Homo sapiens: one gene and its partner. The protein of the gene in region 2 purifies or fractionates together with the protein of the main gene of each other region. This does not show direct contact. Each region holds a gene or a part of one and is shown on either strand. Other genes may lie near its edges. The genes, in order: ANKRD17 and LHX9.

What was found.
Region 1: the proteins of LHX9 (region 2) and ANKRD17 purify together in Homo sapiens (affinity purification with mass spectrometry, with the first as the bait; one large-scale study listed by BioGRID). This does not show direct contact.

Annotation. Positions count from the first base shown.
Region 1 is NC_000004.12:73,077,299-73,081,125, forward strand, and holds part of ANKRD17 (ankyrin repeat domain-containing protein 17), read right to left. Parts: intron 1,593-3,827; coding exon 1,344-1,592; intron 236-1,343; coding exon 57-235; intron 1-56.
Region 2 is NC_000001.11:197,923,576-197,927,402, reverse strand, and holds part of LHX9 (LIM/homeobox protein Lhx9), read right to left. Parts: intron 1-3,827. UniProt on the Homo sapiens protein: Involved in gonadal development.

The DNA of each region.
Region 1 (3,827 bases), on a different chromosome or scaffold from region 2:
AAACATTTTCTCAGAAAATCCTCCCTTAAATAACTAGTACAAAATCAGGACTTTACCCCAACTTTAGGAAAGTCCATGTAGCCTGCAGGAACATGCTGATGGAATGTACCAGAAGGAGTTACAATTCCTGTACTATCTCGCTCCATTGCTTGATGTTGTGAAAATACTCCTGGGTCAGACATCGGTCTGTGGATCATAGGATTTCCCATCCCAGGGTTACACCAGTCTACTTTGTCTGAGGGCAAACAAAGAGGCAAAACAAAAATAGATAATATTTAAAATCAAAATCAAATATTTTGTTTTTCTAATATTTTCCACATTGAACCGTAAATTATTTCAATATAATGACCTACTTTTATATATTTACAGCAATATTTCCATGGTTTGTAAGTAGTGACATAATAGCTTAATGAAATAATCTAAAAACTTGGTGTTATAAAACAAAAGAAAAAAACCTAAGTACAACCTAAAGGGACTGAAAGGAAATATTATTATGTCCTTAATATGATGAAAGGAAGAAAAGAACATGCTTGCATTAGATATTTTCTGAAAGCAGTAATAAATACATGTAATGAGAAAGGTCACATGGGGACAGAGCTCATAAAGAAGTGATTAAATATTCACATAACAAAAAAAATAGGAATACAGATCTTTTAGAAATGACTACGAGGCTGGGCGTGGTGGCTCATGCCTGTAATGCCAGCACTTTGGGAGGCTGAGGTGGGTGAGTCACTTGAAGTCAGGAGTTTGATACCAGCCTGATCAACATGGTGAAACCCTGTCTCTACTAAAAATACAGGCGGGGCACAGTGGCTCACGCCTGTAATCCCAGCACTTTGGGAGACCGAGGCGGGCGGATCACAAGGTCAGGAGATCGTGACCATCCTGGCTAACACGGTGAAACCCCGTCTCTACTAAAAATACAAAAATTAGCCGGGCGTGGTGGCGGGCGCCTGTAGTCTCAGCTACTTGGGAGGATGAGGCAGGAGAATGGCATGAACCCGGGAGGCGGAGCTTGCAGTGAGCAGAGATTGTGCCGCTGCAGTCCGGCCTGGGTTACAGAGCGAGACTCCGTCTCAAAAAAAAAAAATTAGCTGGGCATGGTGGCGCATGCCTGTAATCCCAGCTACTTGGGAGGCTGTGGCAGGAGAATCGCTTGAACCGGGGAGGTGGAGGTTGCAGTGAACCAAGATCACCCCATTGCACTCCAGCCTGAGCAACAAGTGAAACTCCATCTCAAAAAAAGAAAAAAAAAAAGGAAATGACTATTAAAGTTAAATACTGTTTACATTATAGTTAAATGCATTAAGTTAATTTCTAGAGAGCAGGACAGAATATCCTACCTTGATTGCCACCAATCCCTTCAAAGGACCAGATGCCACTATGTCCTACTGATGTAGACAAATTGCTCCCAATAACAGATGGAGCTGACGTTCCAGTTTGCCTGATACGTGCAGAACGTTCAGTCCCAATAGGGACTGGAACTTTCCTGTCCTGAGACACATTGCTGGGCTTTTCTGACCCTAACGGTACTGATGATGGGGCAGGAGATGGTGCACGAACTCCCGAGGATACTGACTGTGCAGAAGAATCTAGAGAAGAGATATTTTGAAATAAAATACAGGTCATCTATAGAACATGTAATTTTATAAAACCAAATCTTAAAACCAGGAGATGTTTTAAATATATATTCTCAGAAAAACAAAGTGTAAAAATAATACTTAAAAATGATGCATATTAAAATTTGGCTAAAGTTCCATGACTTCAAGGTAGAATATGATGTCAATGCTGCAAAATGTTCAACTACAAAGGTAATAAACCATTAAATTAAATAATATTCAAATGAATTAACCCTTGACATTAAGTAAAATGTAGCAAGCAATAAGACATTTAAATTAAAAAACAAACCAACAACAACAGAATGGAGATGGGTAAGAATCACTGCCTGTAGTGGCAATCTCCAAACTGTATTCCCTGGGAATACTTGCTCTTTGTGTTATGATGAAAAAGAGATTCAGCTATCTAATAAATTTGGAAAACCTAGCCTAGGAAAAAGAAATACGTTTCTTTGTTATTTATTCATTTTTTATTTATTTTATTTATGTATTTTTGGAGACAGAGTCTTGCTCCATTGTCCAGGCTAGAGTGCAGAGGCTCGATCATAACTCACTGCAGCCTCAAACTCTTGGGCTCAAGCGATCCTCCCACCCCAACCTCCTGAACAGCTGGGACTACTGGGATGAGCCATCATGTCCAGTTTAAAAAAAAAAAGTTTCTTCAAATTAGAACTGAAGTTTATAGAACATTATATATACTGATAAAATACCAATAAGAGGATCATTGCCTAAGTCTGTTTTATTTTATCTTGTGAGTACTTCACAGAACATGCTTTTGGTAATGAGAATCTTTTTTACTTATGCAAACAAGGTGGATTTCTTGATTTGAGACTATTCATTAGTGATTCAATCTCTATACATTATTGAGAAAAAACAAAAATAACCAAAATTATATTTTATGTGAAAAGCTTAAATATTGGCCGGGCGCGGTGGCACACACCTGTAATCACAGCACTTTGGGAGGCCAAGGCGGGCGGATCATGGGATCAGGAGTTCGAGGGGCCAATATGGTGATACCCTGTCTCTACTAAAAATACAAAAATTAGCCGGGCGTGGTGGCACGCGCCTGTAGTCCCAGCTACTCAGGAGGCTGAGGCAGACGAATCACTTGAACCCGGGAGGCGGAGGATGCAGTGAGCCGAGATCGTGTCACTGCACTCCAGCCTGGGTGACAGAGCAAGATGACTCCATCCCCCCTCCCCCTCCCAAAAAAGCTTAAATATTAAAGCACATTTAAACTAAAATGGTATAAATAATAAAGGAGTCTGAAGCTTAAAAATCAAAACTGTTACCTGCAGATTCAACAGAACTGCAGTTGAATTCCAAATAAGCCTATTATATAAGATAAAAGAGAAAGACCTATAGCATTCCTGTTGACAATAAAAGCACTCCAGAAAAAAAGCTATAACCTAAAATTCAAAAATGAACGAAAAGAAAATGATATGAAGGAACAGCATAATTCAGAATTAGTAAAACGGAAACAATATGACAAAACTCAGGAAAGTGTTAGAAGTAAAAGAATATTTTAGCTAAAGACCAAATAAAACCAAATTCTGCAATTATACATGCAGTAGAAAACAGACAAAAACTACAAGGAATACACAGACATGTAAATGTAAACACAAAGATAAATAACAAAAGCTTGTTTTTTAAAAACCTACATATTGAAAGGCCACACCTAAACCTCTAGGAAAAATCAACCCAGAACAACTAACATCAAGACATAGTCAGGGCAGGCAGGCAGGAAGGAAAGAAGGATAAACAAATGAATCCTGCTTTCCCCTAGGTTCATCCCTGGGAGCCTACCTTAACCTCTGTGTTCACTCTGGTTTCCCTTTTATTTCCTGTATCCTTCTAGAACCAAAGTAGAGCAAAATAACAACAACCTTCCACATTGTTTTGTTTTTTATGAGACGGTCTCACTATGATGCCCACACTGAAGTACAGTGACTATTCACAGGCACAATCACAGTGCACTGCAGCCTCAAACTCCTGGCCTCAAGCCATCCTCCCACCTCAGCCTCCTACACATTCTATTTTAATAAACAGAATTACTAGGCTTGCCCGCTGAGCTGCGCCATTTAAGAAGTTTACTCTCTGCACAGATTCTGCCACCCCTCTAGTCATAGTTTTTATCAGATGACCCTGTTTTCTGCTCCCTCTCTGCACAACTATTGGATTAAGGATAGGCACCCATCCAAGTTTTATTTT
Region 2 (3,827 bases):
TGTAGACACAACCAAAGTTTATGCAATAGAAAAATATTGGTTAAATCCTCTCTTTTGTTTAATGGTTGCTAGAAGAATTTGAGAATATGAACAAACCCTAAGTAGTAAGGTGGGAGTGAGAGAGACCTACGAGAGTGAGAAGAAGAAACCCTTTTCTAATATAGTTATTTGTACCAGCTCCCCACTGCCCACACTCACAGTGTTTTAAGACTCTACCTTTTGTCTATATTTCTGGAATGAGACACACTGTCTGAAGGTATTGCTTTTTGTCATGAGACGTAGAGAAACAAGTATTACTACTCCCTCAAGTCTGAAAGTTTCTGAGAGCCCACCAACTAAGGAAGCATCTAGGTCAATTCTAAGGGTTAGCCTTTTCTCATATTCCTAGAGCTCCGTCAGTCAGGAAAAAGTTAGAAAAGGCTGAAAAAGGAGGAGAAGTTAGAAATTCAAAATTTGTGAATTTCTTATGTAAACATAAGAATATTATTTGTTTCAGCTTTTAGCTATGACTGGTTAACACAGGGCTATACCAGAAAGAAAATATTTTTCCCCTGGAGTGATTTTAATAAATATTTCTGAAAGAGAATGAGCCCAGACTTCCCTTCACACGGTTCACGCCTGAAGCGCTCCCCACAGCTCACAGTTGAGAGATACTGATGGTGCTTATTTCTAGGCTCAGATCTTAGTCCCTTTTGCTCCAGATGTGTGTGAGTGGGATGTGAGCTGTGCCCCTGGCTGGCCTGGCAGAGAGAGGGCGGCATTTTCTCTTCCCTTACAAAGACTTTCTTAGCACCAAGGGCAAAACAACCCAGTCTTTGAAACCAGCCAGAAAGTCATTATCCCCAGGATGTAAAGCTACACTTTTAAAGGGTCATTTCCAAGAATCTACTGGCTCTGCATAGGAAATACAATTGTAAAATGAAAACATTTTGTGAAATATTTACACAACCAACTTCAGCCAACTTCACAAATTAAAGAGCATGGTAATTTTTTTTCTTTAAATTCTTCCTTCAGATAGTTATATAAATTTAGATCTGATCATCCTGCCTTGTACTGCTTTATAATAGAAAATCTAAAACCAACCTGATCATGTCATTCCAGGGAGAAAGAAACCTGAATCTTAAAAAAGGGAGGCATCCCTTAATGTGAGCTCTTCCAATCTGCTTAATAAAATGTTCTGCTTAATACAATGTTATCTGCCTGCTAGGCTCTGTTTAGAATTACTTTTTAAAAAATATTCAGCAAATCAGCATATTTACAGAAATACAGAAGTTTTGTAGTCATCACCCAAGAAGGCAGCCACATATAAAACTCACTTAACAAGAAATTCTTCCTAATGTAAAAAGACTAGACACAAACAAATGTCTCCTTTGTTTGTATTTCCATAAGACGCATAAGTAGGAGGACACACTTGGCAAAAGAACAGGTGAGTTCATTGAGGGAACTGACTATACCATATTCAACTTTGAATTGATTCCCTGAGTCAAACACAGGGGTAGGAGCTCAAGAAGCATTCAATCAAGATGTTGGGCCCTTTGTTCATCAGTAAATTACAAGTGAGTATTAATGCGAAATTAAATCAACTTGAAGTGGAATCCAAGTCAGATATATACATTCGAATGTAAAACATAGGCTTCCTAAACTCCACCAGAAAGGCTACCATATGTCCAGAGATAACAGAAAGAGTATGCATTACATTTTATCCTATTTTGGCCCAGTGGGGATATGTCAAGTTCAAATATTCTACAGAATTGCACTTTCATATCCTCAAATGGATGAAACAGCATCTCTATGACCTACTATAAAACTATACTTATCTCCAGTAAACTCAGCCATATTTCATAACCAGATTATAAATATACCCACAAAAAATAGTCAAAGGGGCACATGTTAGTCATCGGAGGGTTCTTCAACTCAGATTTCTTTCCTATCATATGTAACATGTAACCTTTCCTGAACAATACATCAAATTGAATTTCACACTTGGGACAGAGGACTTGGTGTTTAAATAATGCCCTTGGCCATCTTTCCCCCACTCCACACCAAGGTAATATATAGAAATGAATATGATTCCCAACCTGACTATATAATCATTAGTTCTTAAAATGAAATTTATGAAAAATAATTGTAGTAAGATTTAATGAAATGGCTTCCCTTAAAACGCATTCTATATCCATTATTGCTGATTAAAAACTCAGCAGAGCCTTTTAGTGTGTAAAATACAGTTATAGGCCCTGTTTCCACATAAAATACACAATCCAATATGTAAGGAGATAGCTCGTTGGGTCTTTATTAAACAGATATTACTATATATGATTTTCCTGTGACTGTTATCTCATATTATGCAACTTAATAGAGAAAGCTATTTCTTCTACAGAGTAACAGTGCATTATCTGATATTATTTATGTTTAACTACACATGCATTATATAAACTTGCAAATGACTGTTTCTCCAAGGCCTATTGCTAAAGCTGTAGGGGATTCCCCCACTCCCCGAATTATGAGATGAAATGATAACTCTTAAAACTGTCTTAAATATCTACCTGTCAGTTCACATCCAGTATTATAAGTTAATGAGAAGATCTAAGTATTTTATTTCCAGTCACTTATGCGATGGGCACCCATCCTAAAGTGAGTGTCGCTGTGAAGGTATGTAACCTTCTGAGAATGAAGTGATCCCTGGAAGACCACTAGGGGTCAGTGCCAGGCTAATTTAACCACCAGGAGCCTTAAAAGTTTGGATAGGAAGAAAGGGCTTAAGGAAAGGATATTTTGAGAAGTGGCAAAAGTTTAATCTCTCAATTAATGTTTAAATTACACAAATAAGAGCTTCCTATCCTAAACTAAATCTTCTTCTCATCCCTAGAGGGCTTTATTTCAAGCTAGCATTTCAGGTAAACTTTCCATGTCTCTTTCTAAAATATTTGCCTGATTAATTTGCACAGAGGTATAAACAAAACTAGGGACATTCTCATTAAAAGGCATTTGCCCTATCAAGCACTAGCTGGCCTTTGCCAAGTTTCACATCTTCTCTGAGATTCTTTGAATCACAAACATGTTTTCTGCACATTTTGAAAACATATTGTGTAAATTATACTTAGTTTAGTATCAACCTTACCCTTTATGAGACTTGTTTACATTTAATGTTTACATTTAATGAAAGATAGCAAGACAAAATCCAAAGAAGGCTAAAATAACGAGTTAAAACTGGATTTATTTTATTTTTTTACATTTTAACGCGTGTTTAATTTGCTGAAGGGTTTCTTTCCCTAGTTTTGGAACAAAGTGGCATCAGATTCGCAAGCACTGTTTTAAATGATGGCCTGATTTCTGGTCAGGCATCTTCAAACCAATTCCCATAGATAATTTTAACCTGATCTTTAAAATATATATACTATTGAATAGTATCTCTGGGAAAAGTCCAGAAAGGATGGAGTAGATGTTAACTAAGAGGCATCCAGTTTGTAGTGGTGCGAGGTACAAACTCTTCGGGCTAAGGGGGCCTAAGCAATTTTTCCCTCCTTTGGGACCAAGACAAAAGCGACCTTCTCCACAACAACTTGTAGCAGCATTAATCTGCAAACTAAAGACCTAAGTGGCTCAGAAGGATTCTTTTATTCTTCTTAAAAATAAATTTGTACTCTCTAGTTATTTTCAGAGAAGTAAAAGAATCTAAATTCTACTGTTCTTAAAGCTCCTTGGATCTAACATGAAGATCCAAGGCGAAATCAAATTTAGCAAATTAGATTAAATAAACAATCAAAAAGTCAGGCTTGCCTACTATTTGGCTAGAAATCTTCACCCTTCTGGACTTTATCCGGGCTGAG